Regions from separate parts of the Homo sapiens genome. Here all the other regions are linked to region 4. The links come from fine-mapping of genetic effects on gene expression. A gene starts in region 4. Each other region holds a variant in brackets. All regions are shown on one strand. Distances are from middle to middle.

Region 1 (5,105 bases), 72 kb before region 4:
TATAAAAACCAGCAAGAAAACAGCCCCCAGCCCCGTGGGCCTTCAGTCAAGTAAGGACAATTACAGCAGCTAACATGTGCGGTGCATTTACAATCTGTTGGGCGATGAGCTAAGCATTCCACGTGTACGATCTCGTCTAATCCTCACCCAAACTCTATGAGGCATAGTCTATTATTACTGTACTTTCAGGATGAGGTGACTTAGAGTGGAGGTGAGTAACAAAGCCGCAGCCTTTTCTAACCCTCAGCACATCTCCAGGCTTGCTTCCTGCTGAGGATTGCAACCCACCTCCCAGGGAGATGAAGTCTCTAAAATTGGAAATAAAAATTTCAGCACCTAATTTCTAGCTTGCATCTGAATTGCCACACGTTCTTTTACAGGTTTTTTTTTTTGTTGTTGTTGTTTTTTGTTTTTGTTTTTGAGACGGAGTCTTGCTCCGTAGCCCAGGCTGGAGTGCAGTGGTGCGATCTCCACTCACCGCAAGCTCCGCCTCCCGGGTTCACGCCATTCTCCTGCCTCAGCCTCCCGAGTAGCTGGGACTACAGGTGCCCGCCACCACGCCCAGCTAATTTTTTGTATTTTTAATGGAGACGGAGTTTCACCGTGTTAGCCAGGATGGTCTCGATCTCCTGACCTCGTGATCTGCCCACCTCGGCCTCCCAAAGTGCTGGGATTACAGGCATGAGCCACCGCGCCCGGCCTACAGGTTTTTAAAATAGTTTGTTGGTTTGCATTTAGCCATTGAAATTTTTATTAGTTTGTTTTTTAATGTGCTGGATCTCAGGTCACATGATTTTAGGCTGCCAACAAGATCTTTTCAAAAATTAACTGGGCTTCCTGGGGCACACTAACTTAAGAGTTCTGGCTTTTGTCCCCTTTTGCCCATCCCCACTAACACCAGCACTGATGTTCCCACTGTCACCAAGATGCTGAATGGATAAGCGGTCACATGATCAAAGTACTGCCTTCCACCTACACTGGGAATGAGTTGGGATCGTAGCTCCTGGAAAGGCTTCCCCAACAACCCTAGGGTGTGTGAGTAGGCAATTTGGAGAGTCAGCCCCAGCCCACCGTAATATGAGTGCCCAGAACAGGATCATGCCCAAGACAGAGCATGGATTTGGAGAACAAACTCAATATACGTTGGATTCATAAAAACATTGGGCTCAGGGTGGCAATTCCTTGCTGTTACGCACCTGCGAACATAGCTGACTTGGATTTGCAAGCCACAAGCTTAGGTGTGGAACATTTGTGAGTCTCTAGCATTTCTGAACCTGTCTTAAGAGCTATCACCTTACTCTGATGACATTCCAAGTGCTTACACAGGCCTCTGAGACTCCCTACCATGGCTCTGAATTTAGTCCGGCTACACAGGCCTCTTGACTGTTCCTTACTTATTTATTTATTTATTTTTGAGATGGAGTCTCACTCCGTCACCCAGGCTGGAGTGCAGTGGCGCAATCTCGGCTCACTACAAGCTCTGCCTCCCATGTTCAAGCGATCCTCCTGCCTCAGCCTCCCAAGTAGCTGGGACTACAGGGATGCCACAATGACCAGCTAAATTTTTGTGTATTTTTAGTTCAGACAGGGTTTCACCATGTTGGCCAAGCTGGTCGCGAACTCCTGACCTCAAATGACCTGCCCATCCTGGCCTGCCAAAGTGCTGGGATTACAGGCATGAGCCACCGTGCCCAGCCATGACTGTTCCTTAAATACACAGAAGCCTCCCACCTCAGAGCCTCATTAGCTCTTCCCTCTGCCTGGAGTAAGCTTCCCCAGATACTCTCAGGCCTCTCATGCTCTCTTCACTCAAGCCTCTGTTTAAGTGTCTCTATCAGAAAGGTTGGCTGTGTTCATCCTAGCTCAAGTAGCATGCATCACCCTTCCCCTGAGTTACTTTCTTTGGACATTTATCTCTACTTGTCATTATATTATATGCTTGTTTGATTCTTGCCTGTCTCTCTCTACTAGAATGTTAGCTCATGTGAGCAGAGGCTTTGTTTTGTTCACAGATGGACAGAAATCATGCCTGGCACGTAGTAGGCGCTCAATGAATATTTGTTGCATTGTTTCACAAAGACTCACCCCATTCCTTCTTTCACTAATGTCTACTTAGAACTCAGAACAAAATCTAAGGCATCATTTTTCCTACAGATTCCTCCAGTGACCTTTTCCCGGAATGTGACATTCTACCAGAATGCACTTTGACAATTAAAAACCTCAGCATTTCTTCCTAGACTAGTTTTGTCACTGTCCTAATCTTTTTCTTTTTTTTTTTTTTTTCTATTTCTGGCTTGGTCTCATGTTTCAGGGAAATTACTCAATAGATGCTCCTATTACTACATTTTTACTATGAAAGAATAGAATTTCGGCCAGGCATAGTGGCTCATGTCTGTAATCCCAGCACTTTGGGAGGCCAAGGCAGGCGGAGGCGGATCACCTGAGGCCAGGAGTTCGAGACCAGCCTGACCAACATGGCAAAACCCTGTCTCTACTAAAAATACAAAAATTAGCTGGGCGTAGTGGCAGGTGCCTGTAATCCCCGCTACTCAGGAGGCCGAGGTAGGAGAATTGCTTGAATCCAGGAGGTGGAGGTTGCAGTGAGCTGAGATCTCACCATTGCATTCCGGCCTGGGCGACAGAAAAAAACAAACAAACTCAAAAAAACAAACTAACAAAAAAACTCAAAAAACTCAAAAAAAAACCTCAAAAAACTCAACAAAACAAACAAACTAACAAAAAAACAAAGAACAGAATTTCACCAACAAAAATCCTGTTTATCTAAGGCCAGACTTACAGATTTCTCTGCGCAGTCAGGTTTTCCCTCTGCCTTCTGTGTATTGCCGCTTTGTTAAATCAAGATGATATGGTTTGGCTGTGTCCCCA[C/T]CCAAATCTCATCTTGAATTGTGGCTCCATAATCCTCAGGTGTCATGGGAGAGACCTGGTGGGAGGTAATTGAATAATGGGGGTAGGTTTTTCCCGTGCTGTTCTCGTGATAGTGAGTAAGTCTCACAAGATCTGATGGTTTTATAAAGGGCAGTTCCCCTGCACAGGCACTCCTTCCTGCTGCCATGTAAGACATGTCTTTGTTCCTCCTTCACCTCCTGCCATGATTGTGAGGCCTCCCCAGCCATGTGGAACTGTGAGTCCATTAAACCTCTTTCCTTTATAAATTACCTAGTCTCGGGTATTTCTTCACAGCATATGAAAATGGACTAATACACCAGGCTTTGCCACCCTCATCTCCCCTCACCCCTGCCCTGTCTGCCCAGGTCAGTGCCCTCCAGCCTTGTACCTTTCAGATATGGGTTGTGACCTGTGACCCATTTAGTGGGTGATGAAATTAATTTGGTGGCTTGTGAACAGCATTTTAAGAAAAAAATAGAATAGGAAATACAGAAAATGTGTTTCTTATTGTGATACATGTTCAAGAAAGTTTGAAAGCACTGCTCTGGCCTGTATGGGTCAAAGAAGCTTTAGTACTATTTTTCTCTTTAGTTGCCTTCAGCAGATTCTAGAAGAAGGGGCTTCGGCACTCCTGGCCTCGCACAGTGGGCCTGTGGTGGATTGTAGAAAATGGTCAGTTCTCTTTTAAAATGCTGCCAACAGCAGCGCAGGTGGTGGGCACACCTGTTCTTTTAACTGTATCTGTTTCATAAGGTAAGTATACCTGGGACACTGAAACTCTCAGTACCAACACTCCACTCATACCCTGCGCTCAGAGACTTCACCAAACCATCGCATGGCTTCTAGCAGCCTGAGGCCACGTCCCTGGGATGGCCCAGCCCCCTTTTGAGTTGCTGTCTGGGAAAGCTTAAGGCTGTCAAAAGAATTGAGTTTGTTCCACCAACATCTGACAACAGGCCCCTGATCTTGCTTTTTTAGAGCATTTACTAAAAAAAGGAGGCTTACCATTGTGAATCCTTCCTCTGTTGCTCTGAGCTACTATGTATGTGTTGCCTACAGCTCAGGGGTGTCTTTCTCAAGGACCTGAAAGCCATTCCCCTCAAGGTAATTATCAGGAAGGAGAGAGGATCCTAGCTTCGAGAACTGCCAGCTAGCAGACACAGCTGGTCTCATCATATTGACTCTGCCCAACACTTTGTCATTTTTCACTTCCCTGACTCTACCTGAACCTGCTCGCTCCACCTCCTGCCTCCCTTATTCTCCCTTTAAAAGGCCCAGTCAGCATCTCTGCACAAATCAGAATAGAGCTCAGCTCTTTCCGCTACTGTCAGCAGTTACTGAATAAAATTTGTTTTCACTGCTTTAACTAATGTCCAGCTTGTTTATTTTTATTTTTAAACCATATACGTACACATGCACACGCGCACACACACACACTTCTTCTCAAGACAAACATTGCTTCTCAGAGATAGCTGATTCTTGTCATCCTCATAATCTAGAGTATCTTCCCTTCCTATGTTTAAGTTATAAGTAAAGTTTTAACTGTTCCAGTCTGGTCTTTGATGTTCCTTAGGAAATTAAATGAAGAGTTGTGTATGGGACTCTTTCCTTACAGGGAAGAGTTGGGGCTATGAGGTCCAAATTTCCGTGCCCACTGGGAGCTTCTCCTTCCACTGCCAAACGTGGAGGAACCAGGATTCGTGTTACAAAGGGAGATTTCCAGTTGTCTTACACATCAAAGGCCACCCCCTTTTCCCTCTACCCAGCTTTAACTTTCCCAAAGAATTTATAAGCAGGAAGTCTCATATTCTCTATCCAGGCAGATGAGTAGAGATGGTTGGGCATGGGTTTCAAGGCAGCGTTTCATGTGGGAATCAATAACAAAGCAGACATCTGAATGTGCAAAGAGAAAAGGAAAATCCCCAGGTGCCAGTAAACAAACATGGAAGTGAAAAACAGAGTGACTGGTAAGCAGCCAGGCCAATGGTGGGGAGACTGGGGAGGGTGGGACTGGACCTGGATTCATCCCCAGCACCAAAGAGTTTTCAACTGTGGCCACATGCAGGAACGGAACATAAGGCATGGGCCTATGGAGGGCGGGAGAGAACTGAGATCCTGTATGAAGGCTGCACGTCCAGTGAAAAGGAGCTGGTCCAGAAGATGCCATACACCAGCAGGGAGGAGCTGGTGCAGGGGGA
Region 2 (5,105 bases), 39 kb before region 4:
TACAACACGGAGTGTGGAAGGACACTTGAGATAAATGCTATGGACCAGAGTCCAGGGACTCCATTGCCTGAAACCAAGGACAGTCCTACCCCCACCCCTTCAATCTTCCACAATCTGGCTGTCAGTCATCACCAGGAACCTCCCTTTCAGAACTCTAGCCACAATTGCACCCATCTCCTCACCTCCTCCAAGCAGTCCTGGAGCTGCCCTGTTGCAGTGCCTTTCCACGCTCCTGCCATCTCTCGGCCTGAGCTGCCTTTCCTCATCATCACCATCTGTTATGATCCTACGCGCCTCACCCAGACAAGCCCAACTCCAGAGCCCAACTTTTTAAGGAAAGACTCAGGATAGCTCACCCCATTTTCAACAGAGAAATCCCCCTGTAAGTTTACCTCAAGAAGAAGGAAGACATAAATATTATAGCCATGACTCTATCCACACAGGGCTGTTTTCTTTCTTTTTTTAAATTTAATTTAATTTTTTTTTTTTGAGATGGAGTCTCTCTCTTGTTGCCCAGGCTGGAGTACAGTGGCACGATCTCGGCTCATTGCATCTTCTGCCTCCCAGGTTCAAGTGATTCTCCTGCCTCAGCCTCCCAAGCAGCTGGGACTACAGGGGCACGCCACCACACCTGGCTAATTTTTTTGTATTTTAGTACAGATGGGGTTTCACCATGTTGGCCATTCTGGTCTCGAACTCCTAACCTCAAGTGATCTGCCCACCTCGGCCTCCCAAAGTGCTGGGATTACAGGCATGAGCCACCATGCCCGGCCAGGGCTATTTTCTTGATTCAGAGTTATTACATCTGGGATCAATGGATCGATCCAGAAAGTCTGTGAACCCCTACAATAGTATGTGAACATTTGCACATGTGGCATTTTTCTGGGAACTTAGTTGGCAGGGGACAGGTGAGTTACTCCCTGGTATCCTTCCACCTAAGTACAAAACCAACACAAGAGAGAGAGCTAAGTCAAAAGATCCAGAGAGGAAGAGAGCCAGAGTCTTGACTAGACGGTGCTTGGAACCCCACCTCTGGACATTTAAAATTCTGGGTCAATAATTGTTTAAGGGCTGGGCACAATGGCTTAAGCTTATAATCCCAGCACTTTGGGAGGCCAAGGTAGGAGAATCAATTGAGCCCAGGATTTCAAGACCAGCCTGAGCAACATAGTGAGACCTCGTCTTTACAAAAAATGTAAAAATTAGCCTGTTGTGGTGTTGCATGCCTATAGTCCCAGCTACTTGGGAAGCTGAGGAGGGAGGATTGCTTGAGCCTGGGAGTTCAAGTTTGCAGTGAGCCATGATCACACCACTGTACTCTAGCCTGGGTGACGGAGCAAGACTCTGTCTCTAAAAAACTAAAAATAAAAAGGAAAAGAAGAATTGTAGAGAAATCCTACCTATTCATGAAGTTCATTCTTAAAAGCTACTTCTTCCTTGACGGCTTCTCCTATTCCCCAACATGGAATCCCTCCCTCCTCTGTGCTCCACTGGGCACCTTGCTTTCCCCTTTTGTGGAGCACCCAGAGTACTAAGGTCAGTTGAGACAAGCATCTCAAAGCAGCTTCTAGGTCATACTTGGGTATTTATTTCTAGCAGCATCTAGCAGAAAGTCTGGAAAAAGAAGAGAAAGAGGGACAGAGGAAGGACATATTTATCACTTAGTATGCACCAAGATCTGTGCTAGACACATTCCCAGTCATTATTTCACTTAACAAATAAATTTTATTTTTTAACAAGTGTATTTTATTTAACAGGTAAAAAAGGGAAGGTGTTAGAATTAGCATTTGTATAAAGGAGCAAATAGAGAATTCAAAGAGCGATGCAAGTTCACACTGCTAGGAGGCAGTACAGTTGATGCTCCAGTCAGCATCGTGGTGCCTTTGTAACTTGTTGCATTGTTGAGCTAACAAAATGCCAGGAGAGTCTGAAGAGGCTTTATGAGGACAGAGGCAGGTGGGGGATCTCCAAGTTGCCTAAGTTCCTCCAAAATATACTTCAATAAACACTTTTAGTGTGAGGGGTGTAGGGCAACATCACATGATCCCAACCAATGGCTGGGAAACTGATGATGCGCAGGGCAATCATGGGAACCAGAAATGGGTTTCTTTTAAATATGCTTTTGCTTCTTCACATTCAAGATTATTCAAGACTTCAAGGTAAATTTTCTGTCT[C/T]GGCCTGTCCCGATGACACATGAACTTGTTTGTCAGAGCTGAGAGATGACAGATAATGGCAAAAGACAGCCAGCTTCCTGTTTGGGGGGACATGTGAGCAAAAGGTTGCAGCCAGCCACCTGACTCTCAAATGAGGAGACTAAAAATACAATCAAAGAAACCACTTGAGACGTGGCTGCAGTTCCCACAAGAAGTGTCTGCCTCCAAGAGAAAGCACTGCCTGTTCCTCATCTCCACTGCCCCTCCTCTGCTTCCCCATGACGTTCTCCAAAATCTGAGGTCCTAGGGGACTTCACCCATGTGACTCCATGTCTCCCTCAAGGTGCCTTCAAATCCACTTCAGAATCACTGAAGTCCTATTTTAGTCCACATCAGCAATTCTGTTGATCATGGTGTCCAAGTGGCTTTGGCGTTATTGCAAAGGGTCTATAAAGACATTGATATTCTTACCTTCAGCTCCGACAAATCAGCATGTGTGAAGGTGTGATGAGATTAATAACATTTAAATTTATTTCAAAGTATTTCTGAATTCATTGTAATTTTTGTTGTTGTTTTTTGAGACAGAGTCTCATGCTGTCACCCAGGCTGGAGTGCATGGTGTGATCTCAACTCAATGCAACCTTCACCTCCCGGGTTCAAGTGATTCTTGTGCCTCAGCCTCCCGAGTAGCTGGGATTACAGGCTCGCACCACCACACCCAGCTAATTTTTATATAATATTTTTAGTAGACACAGGGTTTTGCCATGTTGGCCAGGCTGGTCTCGAACTCCTGGCTTCAAGTGATCTGCCTGCCTTGGCTTCCCAAAGTGCTGGGATTATAGGTGTGAGCCACTGTGCCCAGACAATTGTAAATTTTTTGTCAAAACTTTTCTTCTCCAGCAATAGACACTAAAAGTAAAGTTCCTCTCCTGTGAGGTCTGTGTTGGTGTTTAAAAGGGGTCTTCATGCTAAAAATTTGTGAATTACCATTGATTCTAATCTTCCATCCTCACCTCTCTTCCCCTCTCCCGGGCGATGCTCCAGCTCCGTTCCCGTGGCAGTATGTCTCACAGTCCCCCAGGAGGGGCATTCTCTGCTCCCTCTAGCCACTCCTTTCAGTCCTTGCTCTAGACTTGGCTGAGAAACCTGCTGGTTCCTGGAAGCCTCATGGAGTGGGCAGAAAAGGAAGGAACTAAGACCTGCAAAAGACCTGCTCACTAAGGCAGGGCAGGTGTTGAGGGACTGAGGCAACTGTGGAAGTGGACTGGGGAAAAGACCAGCAGTGTGGCAAGCTTACAATTGTGTTCAATCAGCAAACAGCCCCTGAGTTTCCAGAGAAGACGGTGGTGGCCCCAGCAGGCTAGCAGGGCACAACAGGCAATACATGTGACCCACATATTCAAGGGGCAAGTGGCATGGCTGGGGCTCAGTGATTCAGCCCAGCAATGAGGTAAGGACCAGGGAGAAACACTGTTGTAAAGATTAAGTAGAATGATTGCATCTCGGACATGATTGATGCTCAGGGTGTGGTTTGTGTGTGTGTGCGTAGGGCACAGGAGCAGGAATGGAAGCAGAAGACAAGTGCTGAGAAGCAGCCCCGTGAACACAGGCAGCTGCAATAGGTGGGGTGGTGGGTAGAGAAGGCTGAAACAAGTCCACTTCCAGGTTCTCTCTGCCTGGAATACTTTTCTCCCAATCCTACTGCCACCATCCTATGAGGTCCAATTCAATGTCCCCTCCTTTCTGCCCTGGGCTCTACTTGGTTTGCCCAATGGCCTGGAGGCTCATTGAGAATCTTTCAGGGATAGTGGAGGGAAGTGGATATATGGAGTTGGAAGTTCTGGGTTTACTTGAAAATTCCACCCATAGCTCCACCACTTGATGAGCTGAACACTCTCTCTCTCTCAGCTAGTTTTCTCATCTGGAAAGTGCTAAGAACATAAAACTCACCTCGCAGGCTCACACTGATGGTTCTACCTAGCCTGCTCGCCCACAGAGACATGGTCAACATCAAATGGGATATGTAGGGGACAAAATTGCTACAAAAATGTGATCTGTACTCCACATTTTTAATCTTTATATTCTCCTGACAGCTTCTCACAAAACACCTTGCACTTAGAACATGCTTAGTAATTTGTGGTAGTTAGGGAGCAGTTAAAGTCAGAATCTGGTAGCGATATGGATTTTCATTACAATTAAAAACCCCACACCCCACTTCCTGTATTTTACAACCTATAGGCAGCAACCGAGCACAGGCTTACTCAGGGAAGGGGTGATAGAGCAGGCAAAAGAAGATAATTCTTGGCTTTTGAGTTTCTAAATAGACTTTCAGAACTTAAACTAGAGAAGTGGTTTTGAAAGAAATACCAGTTAGTGGTAAGAACCTACCCCTTCCAGCCTCAAAAGCCAGAGTCCTAAAGAGTCTGGGTACAAAGTTTATACCAAAACAGGAGACGTGAGAGAACGGATGACAAAGCAAGAGTCAGCTTTTCCCACCCTGGAGGCAATAAAGATTCCCAGGCAAGGAAGAGGGACAAGAGAGAGATTGTCTAACAACAGAGTGAGAAGCAGGGGTGGGTTCCCGAGATGATGCCTTGCTTCCCATCCCAGGCCAAATCTCCAGAGTGAGGGGGATGCTAAACGTCCCTTATAGGTTGTGAATCTGAGAACAAAAGAACATGTGCCTTGATCGCCGAGCTGAAAGCAGAAAAGCAGCAGTCCGGTATGGCAGCAGCAGATGAGATGAGAGTGTATTGTTTCCAGACAAAGGGGCCCTGTGGCAGTTGCTCCACGTCCCCTGTAGCTCTGGATTTGTAAAGGAGAGGGAATGGAAGTGTCTTTTGTCTTGAGAGGGGCACAGATGTAGCTGAGAGGATTGCCAGACCTGAAGAGGCTTTGCAAACAGGACAGAGAGAATGCAAAGTGACCTGCAAGGACCAATGACCAGAATCA
Region 3 (5,105 bases), 62 kb before region 4:
CCAGTCACCAGGTTAAATGAACCGATAAAAGGAAGTGCCTGGCACAGAAGCCGGCATAGGGTGGGTGGGTCCTGAATGCTAAATATTACTCTTCCTCGCCTCCCCTCCTGAGGTAGGTCATGCAAACATTCCTGGCCGGTCTCAAGTGACCCCAAACTGTGACTTCCAAGGTTCCCCCAAAGTGAGTCAAGGGGATCCCCTGATGTATGGCCTCAAACTCGAGCCTGCTGCCTGAAGTGGGACTGGAGGAGGGTGAGAGGTGAGGCGGGTACGCTGAGGGTCGGGGGGGCTCTCCAGCTCCCCATCCTGCCGTCAGACAGACACTGCTCCGGGCACGATCCTGCGGATGTGGGTGTACGACTTCCTGATGGTGACGCTGCCGTGGTGCGACACGCCCCGGGGCAGGACGCACTCCTCTGTCAGTTTCTGGGCCTCGGGGTCCCAGCACAGCACCGTGGCGATAACCTCGTTCTTCTCGTCCCGCCCGCCGGTGATGTAGAGCCGGTTGTTGCAGGGCGCGATACCGCAGCTGGCCCGCTCGTGGCTGAGCTGGGTCACCAGGCACCAGCTGTCTTCCAGCGGGCTGTAGGCGTACAGCGCTCTCATGGCCCCACCTGAGGAGAGGGAGGAAACACGGTGGGCATCGCTCCATTTTTCTGGTTTCTTCCCTCTTAACCACTAAAATTCAACTTCTGATTAGGCCAAGTCTACCCTCTTGCCAAGAGAAACAGTCGATTGATGGCTCTCCTGAAAGCCAGAGTGGGTCCTAGGGGCAGTGAGTTGCCAGCGCTGGAGACACCGCGACACACCGTTTACGTGCTGCAGCCAGGCGCTCATCAGGTTCTAAGCCATTCAGACCAATAAGAAGCCATTACTCACCAACGACATAGATGCGGTCCCGGAAACTCACTGCATTGATGCATTTAGCCTCCACGGGCATGGCCGCCTTCAAACTCCACTTGTTGGTGGAAGGGTCATAACACTGAGTCTTGTCTGTGGCCAGTTTCCCATTGGGCCCTCCCCCGATCACATACAGCTTCTTCTTATGGCTGGTGGCTGCAAAGGAACTGACATGGACAAGGAGGGGTGCGGCCTGTAGAGGCACAGGGCACAAGAAGAAGCTGTCAGTCATGCTGCCCAGATTGCTGCAGTAGCTCCCAGGATACAGGACAGAGCTCCGGGACACAGAACTGGGCATCTTTTGCCTATAGTCACAAGGCCCATGGGCTTGACTCCTCTTAAGACACAGCAAGAATGAAAGCATGCATTTCCCACCCTCCCTCCAGGCTCCACGCAAGCTAGAGCAAGCTGTGTGTTGGGATGTGCCAGCCTCTCCCGGAATCCAGCTCTCAGGCAAGAATAAGTTTATACAGATGAAGTCAGCCAGTGTGGGAGGAAAATGATGTTTTATACATGCATATTCATATTCATTCATGTGCTCATCCACTCGAAAAATATTTATGGAATGCCTACTATGTACCAGCATTGATTTTCCTTGGTGCTTATATCTAGGAAGAAAAGCTGAAACGGTGGCCACAGGTAAGCAGACTCTTCCATTATGGGGCAGCATTGAGGATTTTGAGATTAAGTCAGACGTGTGCTTCTATCCTGTGAACCCCAGGACAGTAAAGGAGACTTCCAAGAGCCTCTTGCCCATTTATTTACAGGATCCTTTTAGATCGTGGAGCAGCTCTGTGATAGGGCTTGTTTTGAGAAGATCCTGGGCATGTCCCCCATACATGTTAAGGGCTCTCAATATAGCACTTTTCAGGCTGACAGTCTTGGCTAGATGTGGTGACCTGGCTACCTTTGCTTGTGCCTACAATGACTGTGTTGTACATTCCATTAAGCTGGAACATGCTTGGACATCTGATCTGATAAGGAGAAAGAAAATTTGAAACTGGGAATAACCTGGAAATGAGATGAGGTGGCTTTTCTTTTCCTGGGTCTGATATATACCTGAGGTTGCATTACTAAAGTCTGACATGCAGGCCTGTAAGTGGCTCATCATCCATGGGAAAATAAAGAAGGGATGATTTCTAACATGACCAAATCACTCTGGGTTCATAAACGGTGTAGTAAAGTGATCCGCATGTGTCCAGTGTGGAGAAGAATAGGAGAGAA[G/A]GCATCTGAGGAGACAAGACTCTACACCAAGACATGCAGACCAAGAGATCTCCCATCTAAGGACAGGGTGAGCCTCTGTGCACATCTGGGGTTCTGTCCAAATTAGGACAGGTGCCCACACAGACCTTCACCACTTGGAAGGACATTGTTTCTGTGACTTGATCAGCAATACTGAAGCAATAGCTCCTAGGAGGAGGGAAGCTCAGAGCCACCAAAACTGTTCTCCTTGGAAGTAAAGTGATCAGAAAGCTGACCACCACGGCAGGCACGTTCCAAAGCTTTTTAAAAAAGCACTGAAGTAATAATACAGGCAGTTACTGGTAGAAATCGTGTCCTATACCTCTGACCAGCAGTTGTGAAAGGGGTCGTAGGTCTCCACATTGTTGATTCTCTGTAAGCCGTCAAAGCCTCCGATCACATAGACCTTGCCACCCAACACCACCATCTTATGCCTCCAGCGGCCTATGTTTAAATACTCAATCTGAATCCACTTGTTGATCGAAGAATTATATTTCCAAACATCATGCTGTGTTTCTTTGCCACCTGCAAGAGATACAAAGCATTTAAGAAACCATCAGATGTGTCAGAAATACAGCTTCTCCCATAATATCCCACATGTCCAAAAGTGCCAGGTCCCCAGGCCAGCCCTACCCTGAGGGGAGATACAAGAAACCCAGCAGGTGTGTGATGTCTGGCAGGGGAGATGAGGCAAATGCAGGGGAACAGGGAGAGACAGAATGGATGATGTGCCACACTGTGTCATGTCCACCTCAGTGCTGCGAGAGTTCAGAGAAGAGGTGGCTAAGTGAGCAGTGCCCTGAGAAGGCTTCAGGGGGCAGGACCCAAGCCAGCCTGGGTGGGTAGGGACCAGAGGGAGCCTGGACTCAGTGTTTGCCCTCACAGGGAGCAGGAAGCAAGGCTGGGCGGGGACAGTGGGGTTTGTGCAGAAGGCAAATTACATGGCAGCTTAAATTCTATGTTTACTTTTTATTTAAACCAAAAAGCAAAGATACAGACCTGGAAAAATCACTAAGAAATCCTACAACATTCTCCTGGTTTGTCGCTCTGATCTGTTTAAAACAATCAGTGGGATTTATCCTATTTCTAAATAATTTTTGTTATAAAAGTATGAGATGCTCACAATAGATCATTTGAGAGTGATCTGGTAAACATTTTCTTGAAGGCAACTCTCTTAAAAAACAGAAAATACAAAATTCAGCAGCTGGGGAAAGAGACAAAGACAAAGGAGAACTGACTTTTTGGGTGATTTTAATCAAATATTTAACAGCTTTGTGTTTCCATTTTCCCATCAGCATAGACTACCACCAACTACTTAAAGCAAAGATTTACTTTTCAGACTTACATGTGTGCAATAGTGGAGAAATGAACATTACTGACCACATTCTGTGTCAGGGGTGTTTCTCTAGCATGGAACCCAGAAGTGGGTTTACTAAGTCAAAGCCATGTGCACCCTGAATTTTTATAGGTGCAGCCAAGGCATCCTCCGCAGCTGTGGTGGTTGACTTTTCCTCATACCCACTTTTTGTTGGTGGTGGTGGTTTTGTTTTCTTTCTTTTATTTATTTATTTTTTTGAAGTCTGACGGAAAAAAACTATGTCAGTTTGGTTTTCGCTTACTATGAGGGAAGCTGAGCTTCCTCTTCCTTGAATCTTTTGTTCATATAGTTTGGCTATTTTCCTTTGGGTGGGGTACCTTTCAGAGGTCTCCATTTATTCAAAACATTGATCCCATTTAGGTAGCATCAAAAAGTATAAAATAAATGTAAATTTTCAAAGAAATGTATGCAACCTTTATTAAAACCTATGATTTTATTTTAGGACAAAAAAAAAAAACCCTGAGAAAGCATATTGTGTGCATAAATCAGAAGACACCTTATTGTGAAGATGTCAACCCTCCCTAGGTTAATCTATATACTCAGTGCCTTCAAGACTTTTGAGGGGAACTTGATGAGATAATTCTAAATTTCACTGGGAAGAGTAAGTTTGGAAAAATTTCTAAGAAACTTTTGAAAAAGAAAAGGGAAGAAGGAGGCTTTCCTTATCAAATATTAAAATATACTATAAAGCTATCCTAATACAAACAGTGCAGTACTAGACAAACTGATCAGTTAAAAACAAGAGCACAGAAACGGACTAAAATATATACAGATCATTAAATAAATGTTATTAGAACAATTGGTTATTCATTTGGATAAAGATTAAGTTAGATACTTATTTTACATTACATTTAAAATAAAATTCAAATGTTACTGCTACAGAAGTAACTGGAAAATGTATAGGATATTATGTTAATGACCTTGGGGTTAGGAGGGGTTTTCTAAGCATGACATGAATGTAGAATTGTATAGGACAGAAAACAAGTATATAAAGGTAAAAAACAACCACAGTCTAGGAGAAAATATTTGCAACACAAATAGCAAAGGATATATAAGAAGAGTTCCAAAAAATTAGTAAGAACAAGACAAAAACTGATAGGAAGTGTCAAAGAGTATGAACAGATAATTTTTAAAAATAAATACAATTATCTGGTAAATATATATTTACCATTCTAGTCTATTAAAAATTTAAATGACTAATAATAAAAATCGTTAGCAAGGATATAGAAAATGAGCACTGTCATTCATCACTGATTGAACTGTAAATTGGTACAACTTTTCTGTAGGAAAATTTCACAATATATACAAAATTCTTAATTCACATATGACCACTTCCAGGAAACTTTCCAAGTAGCAGCACAAGTATGAAAAAATATGTGTCTAAGAATGCCTACTGCAATATTTTTTAAGGAGACCAAAAAAAGAAAGCTAAAAAAATTATGGTTTATCCATTTGGTAGACTGCCATATAGCTGGTAAAAAGAATAACAGTAGTGATAATACTGGCCAACATAATTAAGCTCCCACCATGTGCTTTGCATGTAATAACTATATCACTTGATATGTATATCCATTAAACCAACATG
Region 4 (5,105 bases):
TGTTTACACTTTATATTTTACACACTTCCCATGGAATGAAGTCCCAGACCTAGTGGCAGCTTGCATTGCAGTAACAAGGATTTCCAGAACATACCCAGTCCCTGCTCCAGCAATGACCAGATATATAATGCTGAGTTTTCATTTCCTCATCTGTGAAATATCAGCCACCTTCATCATGCTGTTACAAAAATAAAATCAGATAACTATGTCTGTCTGGCACACAGCAGCCACTGCTTCCCTCAAACCCAGATATCCCCTTGTCTTATCAACACAGGAGACCTAATGAGTCCCACAGCAACCTGCTGATCCTGCTCTATGAATTACAAAGAAACGTTTCCCCCCAAGCACCTCAAAAAAAAAAAAAAGAAAGAAAGAAAACGCTTTCCATAATACTTTCATAGGTTAATCGTTTTCAATTTCCTCAGCCAGAATCAAGAGTTAAGAAGAATCTCATTAAGAAGAATTCTAAGGGTATTTCTTTTCAAGTTCCCAAATACTTTCTTCATTATCCACATTGCCCTTGCAGGCTGGTTCCCCCATGTCCATGCTGATATGGAGAACACTGGATCAGGTGTATTCACTGGGTTCCCAGCGCTATAAAATTCCTACCCCAGGGACGTGCTCATGGGAAACACTCAATAAGTCATCCTTAGCTGAATCAAGCAGAATCAGAAAAAGAATTCCAAGAAAGATATATTGAGCATCTACTTACTATATGCTAGACACTGTGTAGGACCCTTTTCACGCTCTTGTTTAATTATGACAGCCCTGAAAGGTGATCATCATTGTGCTCACCTTACAGATGATGAAACAGACATTCAGAGCACTTTGTGACTTGCCTAAAGTTTCACTGTCAAGAAGGAACCAAGTCTCCTGACTTCAGGCCTTCCCACTATGAGATCACCAGTTTATCGTAACTAGAGGCCTCTCCCATCTAAAGCATCTTTGTAACTGCTTTCCCTTTCCCCACACTGCCTACACATAAAGAAGCCCCTAATTTGTAACAAGTCATTTGACAACTCCAGAAGAGGGGCCACATCCTTTTTCTCTATGTCTGTTGATTAACAAAGACAACATTATGTTTCCAACACCAGTCAGACCAAGGGGGAAAAAAGTCCCCATGACTTCAGTAATTTTCCATCCTTTGGAACAAGGAAATATACACAAAAGGTTTACTATAGAATGTAAGCATTGCTTTTAAATGATGCCAATCTCTCTTTTAATGTGGCCTAAATCCTAAAATTTAAAGTGTGATAAGCCGGGCGCAGCGTCTCACACCTGTAATGCCAGCACTTTGGGAGGCGGAGGCGGGTGGATCACCTGAGGTCGGGAGTTCAAGACCAACCTGACCAACATGGAGAAACCCCATCTCTATTGAAAATACAAAATTATCCGGGTGTTGTGGTGCATGCCTGCAAATCCCAGCTACTCGGGAGGCTGAGGCAGGAGAATCGCTTGAACCCAGGAGGCAGAGGTTGCGGTGAACCGAGATTGCGCCATTGCACTCCAGCCTGGGCAACAAAAGCAAAACTCCGTCTCAAAAATAAATAAATAAATAAATAATAAAATAAAGTGTGATAGTGTCCTTTCTTATATTTTAAGTAGACACACAAGCCTTAATATATATGTAAACCATAAATATCATGGCCAACTGTTCAAGATTGGGCTCTCACACTAACACACCTCTTCCTTGCAACTTGCACCCAATTTGACTCTGGTCCTAGGCATGCTGACCTGAAATAGTTGCTGGCTGCGGCAAGCACCACGCGGTGGCAGGAGAATTCCTGAATGTCCACACACAAGATGACATCTGTCAGAGCGTTTTCCATTCGCAGGGTTTCCAGGCCATTCTGAAGAATTAAGGAGAGTCCCGCGTCGTCAAATTTGACCTTTTCCCCATTTAAGATCTCGACCAAGTCTCCTGTTTTCTGGGAGGGCTCATCTGTAGAAGGTGCCAGGGGCCCTTCCAAACTCTTCTCGACCACATCACCCATGGTCCAGGCGCCCCTTTGTCCTGCCATCAACATCGAGACTGAAGGAGCGCCCAAGTGTCAGGCAGGCCCCATTGCAGGAGCTGAGCGGATTTCCTGTGCAGGGCCCTCCACTTATCACCAGCTGTCACACACACATAACAGGAAGTCTCGCACTTTCTCATCCTGTTACTACAAATGCCAGCAACTTCTATTCTTCTTCTTTCTGTGAGTAATCACAGGGTTAGAAATTACTTAGAATAGGTGTGTGGGAGGGGGTTCTGGAAGAGGAGTGTCCTCTCAGAGTCCACTGTGAGTGCTGTGTGTTTATTTTGGTGCATCTCCCACCTCATATCCGTGAGCAGGAAGCCTCCGGTGGTGGCTGTTACATTTGTACTCCTAATGCTATCAATAACCCAAGTCGTCAATGAGGGGATGGACAGGAGACAGTCTATAATCCTCCTGCTTCACATTTGTACTCCTAGTGGCTCAATAACCCAAGTCGTCAGCGAGGGGATGGACAGGAGACAGTCTATGATCCTCCCACTTCCTCCTCCCAGGAGTCTGAGACCCCACAATGATCCAACAACCGTGCTTTGTAAACCATGGAAACCCCACTTATCCCTGACATTCTCATTTCTGGCGGCACTGCAGATCGTCTATCTTCATCCTCCTCCCTACCCAGGGGAAAACAACGTCATGGCAAACTTTCATGTCTTCCCCCACCAAAAAAAATGTCTATTGTTTCGAATATGCTTTGGGGGCACAGAAGAAATGGTTTCCAAAACTCCATCAACAGCATCTTCTCAGAGGATGAGTCAGGGTGGGTCTACACCGAATTGCCATAGCACGTCTCAGATTAGCCCAACATCTACTGACCGTGCATCTAACGGTGGATCCTGAAGTATTTTCATTACCTCTGCATGTCTCAGTTAAGTAGTAATAACTGTCATTATTAAAATCCCATGATATCCTGGGGAAGTTATAGGAGCGTATCAGTTAGCGTTCTCTCACGCCCAACAGTAATGCTTTACCAGGTTGCTAGGTATTTCTTAGCCCAGCAAACTTGACATCTAAAATTAACCATTACAATTACAGTCATACCCAGCATAATGATATTTCAGTCGATGATGGACTCCAGAGAGACAGAACCAAAAGGATACCTAGAGAGGCATAGCAGAGGGAAATTATTAGGGGAATTGGCTCACGTGATTATGGAGACTGAGAAGTCGCATGACAGACTGCTGAGAGCTCAGTTCAAGTCCAAAGGCCTCAGAACCAGAGAAGATGGTATAACTCTCAGTCCAAAGCCAAAGGCCTGAGAATCCAGGGGGTGGGGAGACTGGTGTAAGTCCTGAAGTCCAAAGGCAGGGGATCCTGGAGTCCTGTTGTTCAAGGCAGGAGATGACTGTATCCCAGCCTCAGGAGATAGAGACATCGACCTTTCTTCTGTTTTTGTTTTCTCTGGGCCCCTGGCTGATTGGATGGTGCCCACCCACACTGAGAGTGTATCTTCTCTACCGAGTCCACTCAGACTCACTAATCTCTCCTGGAAACAACCTCACAGACACGCCCCATGGTAATGCTTTAACAGGTTGCTAGGTATTTCTTAGCCCAGTAAACTTGACATCTAAAATTAACGGTCACAAGTACAGTCATGCCCAGCACAATGACATTTCAATCGATGATGGACTGAATATACAATTGTGGTCCCAAAAGATTATAATGGAGCATATAAAGAAACCTGACGGCCGGGCGTGGTGGCTCATGCCTGTAATCCCAGCACTTTGGGAGACCAAGGCAGGGGGATCACAAGGTCAGGAGCTCAAGACCAGCCTGAGCAACATGGTGAAACCCCCATCTCTACTAAAAATACAAAAATTAGCCAGTCGCGGTGGCGTACACCTGTAATCCCAGCTACTTGGGAGGCTGAGGAAGGAGAATCGCTTGAACCCGGGAGGTGGAGGTTGCAGTGAGCTGAGATTGTGCCATTGCACTCCAGCCTGGGCAATAAGAGCGAAACTCTGCCTCAAAAAAAAAAAAAAAGTCATGGAAAAATAATGCCATTCACAATGGTAATAAAACATATGTAAATGCCTAGCAATAACAGCAACCAGCAACATAAAGAAAACTAACAAACTTTACTAAGAGTTTCGAAAGAAAACTTAAATAAATATACCAAGTTCCTTTATGGAAAGACTAAATATTATTAAAAGGACCAATTCTTTCCGAATACATTTATAGGTTTATTTTACTCTAATAAAAATTACAAGAAAATTTGGAGTTTAGGTTTGTTTGTTTGTTTGTTTTTGAGACGGAGTCTTACTCTGTTGCCCAGGCTAGAGTACAGTGGTGCGATCTCAGCTCACTGCGACCTCCGCTTCCCAGGTTCAAGCGATTCTCCTGCCTCAGCCTCCCAAGTAGCTGGGACTACACGCATGCACCACCACACCTGGCTAATTTTTTGTATCTTTAGTGGAGACAGGGTTTTGCCATGTTGGCCAGGCTGGTCTTGAACTGCTGGGCTCAAGCGATCCACCCGTCTCGGCCTCCCAAAGTGCTGGGACTACAGGCTCACACCACCGCACCTGCCCCAAGTTTAGGTTAAATGTAAATGAACAGTATCAAGATAGGTTCAAAGCACAGTGGGACTATCTGTAAAAGGATAAACATTAAGTCTAGACTTTACAGTGGACCCAAAGTCTTTTCTCCCTGGAAACTACAAAATTGAGATAGATGTGGAATGTTGTATTCAGAAGCCCCGTATCTGAGTTGGAAATTGAGACTGCTTCCCAGTGTCAAAGTGATTTAGATCTTCCAGACAACTATGAGATCTCATTCTTACTGACACAATGGCAAACAACAAAGTTTCTGATGGTCTGTGATTTTTAGAAAACAATTTTTCTCAGTAAGAATAAGTAGTCACCCACGAAGGGTATCCTTATGACACATTTATAATTGCAAGGAGTCACTTAAGGAAACGTTATTTCTTTTTAACGTTTCATCTGTGTCTGACTTCCTAGCCTGATGAATGGGAGGGCAGATTTTTTACTTTCCGATCTGACCTAATCTTTGAAGAAACGTTGTTTCTTTTTAATGTTTCATCTGTGTCTGACTTCCTAGCCTGATGAATGG
Region 5 (5,105 bases), 31 kb after region 4:
CCTCTGCAAAGACATGCAGAATCTATGTTCCAGCCCCTTGGAGGCCTGCTCTCAGGAAGCCAGCTGGAAGCCAGGCCCAGACTGGGGCTGCACCAGAGAAGGAGGCAGCAGCTGTTACCAGATAATTAAAGTTAGGCCAAGTACAGATGAGTTCAGGAGGCTGATGTGAGAGTCAGGGTCAGGCAGGACATGAATCAGCTCAGGCCTGTAAAAAACCATTAGCTGTCAACAAAGGACAGGAACAGCCTATCTAAGCACTGTTCAAAGGTAAGAAAACTCTTAACTGTAGGGACATAACGAGTCTTCCTTCACAGAGCACCAACACCAGATCCTCTCTCTCACTCCCAATTGGCTTCGACTGGAGTCTGTTTTGGAGATACTGAGGAATCCCTGTGTCTCTTGTTATCAGATAATTTAACTAACAGGAAGCTCTTTTTCCTAGCTTGTGACATGATGAATGGATCAATGGGTGACTTCGTGAATAAGAGAGGGAAGTAGAAACAGGTGTACTCTATGGATAGAACCAATAGCAAAGATTTTGTTTAAGGACAGTTGGACTTATCAAACTGTCTCTAGAACCATACTGACAGTGAGTTTCAGGAATGCCCCAGTGAAGCTAGGGGTACAATCTTCATAGACTTCATGGACCAAGGGCAACAGTCATAACAACAGCAATCAGTTAGAGAGTTGAGAGTTAAACAGTTAGAGAGTTGCTGCTATGGTCAAGAATTGTGTTACATGCTGTATTAGGATTCTTGCTGCTGAGTAAAAAAACCCAGCTCAAATGGACACATTGGATATCAACCTTTACCAAAATTCATTTGAAAATAAACTTTTTGTTTTAAAATATTTGGTTTCTCTACAAGGCTCAAATCCTCTAAGGTTTATAGAGATAGGAGGAGAAAGGTAAGACAGACTTTGCATTTTATCATGCCTATAAAGTGTTTTAGCATGCTGAGTTGTAAGCCAAAAATCTACCACCATAACGATCATACCACTATTTGTTGGGTCCTTTCCATGTATCAAACCACTGAACCCAAACAACTTTGCAAAGGGTAATTTTGTCATAGACGAAGATTACGGTTCAGAGAGGTTAAGCAAATTTCCCAAGATCATTAAGCCATACGTGACAGAGATGGAATTTGAGCCCAGGTGTCTCTGACCCCCAAAGCCCATGTGTTTTCCACCATAGCGTGTTGGTCAAATAGTCATTGGCGTCTATTGCTATTTGCAGTTTGAATTTGGTTGTGAGGAGGGGATGGGGGTTATAAACACACAATGGGGCCAGGTGCGGTGGCTCACGCCCGTAATCCCAGCACTTTGGGAGGCTGAGGCAGGCAGATCACGAGGTCAGGAGATCGAGACCATCCTGGCTAACATGGAGAAACACTGTCTCTACGAAAAATACAAAAAAATTAGCTGGGCATGGTGGCGGGCACCTGTAGTCCCAGCTACTCAGGAGGCTGAGGCAGGAGAATGATGTGAACCTGGGGGGGCGGAGCTTGCAGTGAGCTGAGATCGTGCCACTGCACTCCAGCCTGGGCAACAGAGCGAGACTCCATCTCAAATAAATAAATAAAAATAAAAAATTAATAAATACACAATGATATCCCCAAATTTCTCATTGTTTCTATGGCTCACAGAACCTCACCCAAGACACCGTGGATCTTCTATTAGTTGGGTGTGCACGAGACATTTTTCAGCCTTAGGAGGTCTTGAGGGCTCCAGTGTAGGTACATGCTCTGATTGCAAGGAGGGAGGTGTCCACCTGTGCCCTCTGCATGGAAGGGATTGTCACTCTGTATGGCCATCAAAGGGTGGAATGCTTAAAGTATTGCCCTTCTTGCCATTCTAGCAGGATTTTCTTGGAGAGGGGCTGCCCAAGCCTTGAGAAGTTTTCTTATCTTTCATCTTCTAACTCAAAAGAAAACGAAATGAATTTCTGTTAACATCTAGTGTCCCCTGGCCCTGAACATTCTCCTATCCTTCTCTTCCCAGGTAACACAGTGGTGTAGGGCGGCGGCTCACTCAGTTGGAGGAAACCACACCTTCAAGCAACATCCTCTCCT[C/T]GGAACGAGCTTTAAAGGTCTTATGGTTTCACTCTGGGCTCATCTAACTCAGTCTACATAGTTCCTCCAGAGGATACTTACACATGGGTGAATGTTGCCCCTTTCATTCATTTATTCACTGAGTATTTACTGAGCACCTACTATCTGCCAGATACTATTCTAGGTGCCAAGAATACTTGTGTGAATAAGACAGAAAGGTCTCTATCTCAATGAAATTTATATTGTGATAAAAGAGATAGACAATAATTAAACAAGTAGTGAGATAATTTAAATGTTTGACTAGTGCTATGGACAAAAGAAATATAGTGATTAGATAGAGAGTAACACAGGGTGCAGGAGAACCTGCTTTAGAAAGAGTGCTCAGGGCCAGGCAAGGTGGCTTATGCATGTAATCTCAGCATTTTGGGAAGCCGAGACAGGGGGATCACTTGAGGCCAGGAGTTCAATACCAGCTTGGACACCATAGCAAGGCCCCATCTCTACAAAAACATAAGAAAAATTAGCCAGGCCTGGTGGTGTACACCTGTAGCCCCAGCTACTTGGGAGGCTGAGGTGGGAGGATCGCTTGAGGCCGGGACTTCAAGGATGCAATGAGGTATGATCGTGCTACTGAACTCCAGCCTGGGTGACACAGTGGGGCCCTGTCTCTAAGGAAAAAAGAAAAGAAAAGAAAAGGAAAGGAAAGGAAAGAAAGCTTGCTGAGAAAAAGCCTCCCCAAGAAGTTGATATTTGAGCAGAGATCTGAAGGTTGACAAAGACCCAGTCTTACAAGAGTCAGTAGAAGAACATTCTAGGCAGGGAGAACAGGAAGTAGGCAGGAAACTGGGACAGTCAAGCAAAAGCAGCTGCAGCTTAGTGAGCAAGAGAGAGTAGTCAGTTGTAACGAAAGAGGAAGACAGGGACTAGGTCATGGAGGCTTTTCTAGGCCATGGTTAGTAGTTTGAAGTTTATTCTACATGAAGAAGGAAAATAATAGAAGATTTAAGTAGGGCAGTGACATGCATGATTAGATTTAAATGTTTAAAAATCCACTCTTGTGGCCGGGCGCGGTGGCTCACGCCTGTAATCCCAGCACTTTGGGAGGCTGAGATTGGTGGATCACCTAAGGTCCAGAGTTTGAGACCAGCCTGGCCAACATGGTGAAACCTCGTCTCTACTAAAAGTACAAAAAAACTTAGCTGGGCATGGTGGTACACGCCTATAGTCCCAACTACTCAGGGAGGCTGAGGCATGAGAATCACTTGATCCCAGAAGGCAGAGGTTGCAGTGAGTCAAGATAGCGCCACTGCACTCCAGCCTGGGGGACAGAGGGAGACTCCATCTCAAAAAAAAAAAAAAAAAAAAAAGAAATCCATCCTCGTGATGTAGAAAACAGACTAAACAGGGAAGTGGAAGAAGGGAGGCCAGATAGGAGGGTTTGACTGTAGTCCAGGCAAAAGATTATGGCGCCTTGGACTGGGGGTGACAGCAGAGATGGCAGGAAGAGGATGCATTTGGGATATATTCTTCAGGTAGAATTGGCAAGACTTTGTCATGAGCTGAATGCAGGCGGGGAGGACGAGGAAGAAATCTAAAACGATTCCTCAATGTGGGGTTTAAGCAACTGTTTGGAAGATTATGCTCTTTATTATATAATTTAACAAACTATATGGAAAAAATTGGAAAAAAAAACAGATGGTGAAGATGGGGCAGGGAAATTTGGGCATATTAAGATGCCTATTAGAGGTCCATGTAAAGTTGCCGGTGGCAATTGGATTCATGATTCTGGGGCCCAGATGAAATATTTGGGCTAAAGGTACACATTTGGAAGTCACCCCCTTAGGAGAAGTTAAAGCCATGAAACGGAAAAAGAGAGAAGACCCAGGACAGGACTTGGGGCATAAGTTCATTTAAAGGTTGGATAGCAGAAATAGCCAGTTTTAATGATACATTGAGCAAGAGGGAAGCACGCAGTGTAATCAGAAAACCACTTTATTCTTTTCCTCCACTACCTGTTCAAGCCATCCCCTCCATGGAACTAGTTGTTCCCTGCTCCCTTGAACAAAACTGAAGGGGATTGTGTGACTTTTGTGGACATTCTTAAATAATATAAAGCCATCTGGTCACTGCTGGTCACACACACATAGAGAGAGAAAGAGAGAGTCTCATTTCAATAAGCGTTATGAATGGTAATAAGAAAGTATTCCAAATTCATGAAGAGTTGAGGCTCTCTGCTCCAGCCTGGCTGCCTCCAGTGGGAGTCAGCTGTCCTCTATTTCACCTGAAATGTGACGTCCTCTTTCCCAGCTCATTTGGCTGCCTCTGGTTCCTCTAGAATGGAAGCAGAGTGGGGAGGTAGAAAGGGACAGGGCAGGAAAGATCCTACGTGGCTAGTCTTGTCGTAAACTAATAAGAGCTGTCTGGGCTTTCCAGGCATCTAGAGCTTATTCTTTCTCTTTTGGGACAATATTATGGTTTCTTCAGACTCATCTTTGGAAATCTTACAATGGCAGTTCCCATGCTGTAAGTAAATGCATCTCCTAGGGCTGGTCACTTACAATTCCTCTTTCACTGCCTTGGAATCTAATAGTACATCTCCAACACTTGTTTGTGGTTGGGTTTTTTTCTCCAAGCAGCCCTCCTGGGCAGGATCTAAGAAAACCTCAAGCTTGCTTGCTTTCTCTGTGAGTGCTACCTCAGGCCCGTGGGAAGCACTCATAAGCATCATTTGCCCCAACATAGCACCATCTCTTCTCCCTGCCATTAGAACAGCTAGCCGGCCAAGGGCAGACTCTAGTCCACTGTGATCCACCTTCTAAGTGCTCCCCAGTAAAGCCCCTTTCCCTACACTGGTCAGGAGGGGCAAGCATCCCCCACTGCTTCTGTACGATGGGGAAAAACTCATAGGGCACATCTCTCTAAACAAATTTTCTCTCCAATTTCTTACGCACCTTGGTCTCATTAATCTCTTTTATAAGCTGGAGGTGTTTAATCAACCAAGGGACATAAAATTCATTCTTGGCCATGCTATAAGTCCTGGCCAATCGTCTCACTCCT

Evidence for each region. PIP is the estimated chance that this variant, and not a neighbour inherited with it, causes the effect.
Region 1: its variant is fine-mapped to the expression of KLHL6 in whole blood (TOPMed, PIP 0.99).
Region 2: its variant is fine-mapped to the expression of KLHL6 in whole blood (TOPMed, PIP above 0.99).
Region 3: its variant is fine-mapped to the expression of KLHL6 in whole blood (TOPMed, PIP above 0.99).
Region 5: its variant is fine-mapped to the expression of KLHL6 in T cells (TOPMed, PIP above 0.99). The same link has a PIP of 0.9 or more in blood mononuclear cells and whole blood.

Annotation. Positions count from the first base shown.
Region 1 is chr3:183,481,602-183,486,706 of GRCh38, forward strand. No RefSeq gene overlaps it. Among named protein-coding and RNA genes, the nearest start is that of SNORA63E, 30 kb to the left of the region's middle. The variant C/T (reference allele first, on the strand shown) is at 2,887.
Region 2 is chr3:183,514,197-183,519,301 of GRCh38, forward strand. The region is part of intron 2 of KLHL6 (kelch like family member 6); the gene reads right to left. Among named protein-coding and RNA genes, the nearest start is that of KLHL6-AS1, 32 kb to the right of the region's middle. RefSeq lists enhancers at 2,134-2,413, 4,420-4,920. The variant C/T (reference allele first, on the strand shown) is at 2,175.
Region 3 is chr3:183,491,615-183,496,719 of GRCh38, forward strand. KLHL6 (kelch like family member 6) reads right to left here. Exons shown (of 7, transcript NM_130446.4): 5 at 2,465-2,667; 6 at 880-1,093; 7 at 1-614. The coding sequence ends at 313. Among named protein-coding and RNA genes, the nearest start is that of SNORA63E, 40 kb to the left of the region's middle. The variant G/A (reference allele first, on the strand shown) is at 2,125.
Region 4 is chr3:183,553,627-183,558,731 of GRCh38, forward strand. It overlaps KLHL6 (kelch like family member 6), which reads right to left and starts at 2,080. Exons shown (of 7, transcript NM_130446.4): 1 at 1,735-2,080. The coding sequence starts at 2,027.
Region 5 is chr3:183,584,622-183,589,726 of GRCh38, forward strand. No RefSeq gene overlaps it. Among named protein-coding and RNA genes, the nearest start is that of KLHL6, 31 kb to the left of the region's middle. The variant C/T (reference allele first, on the strand shown) is at 2,070.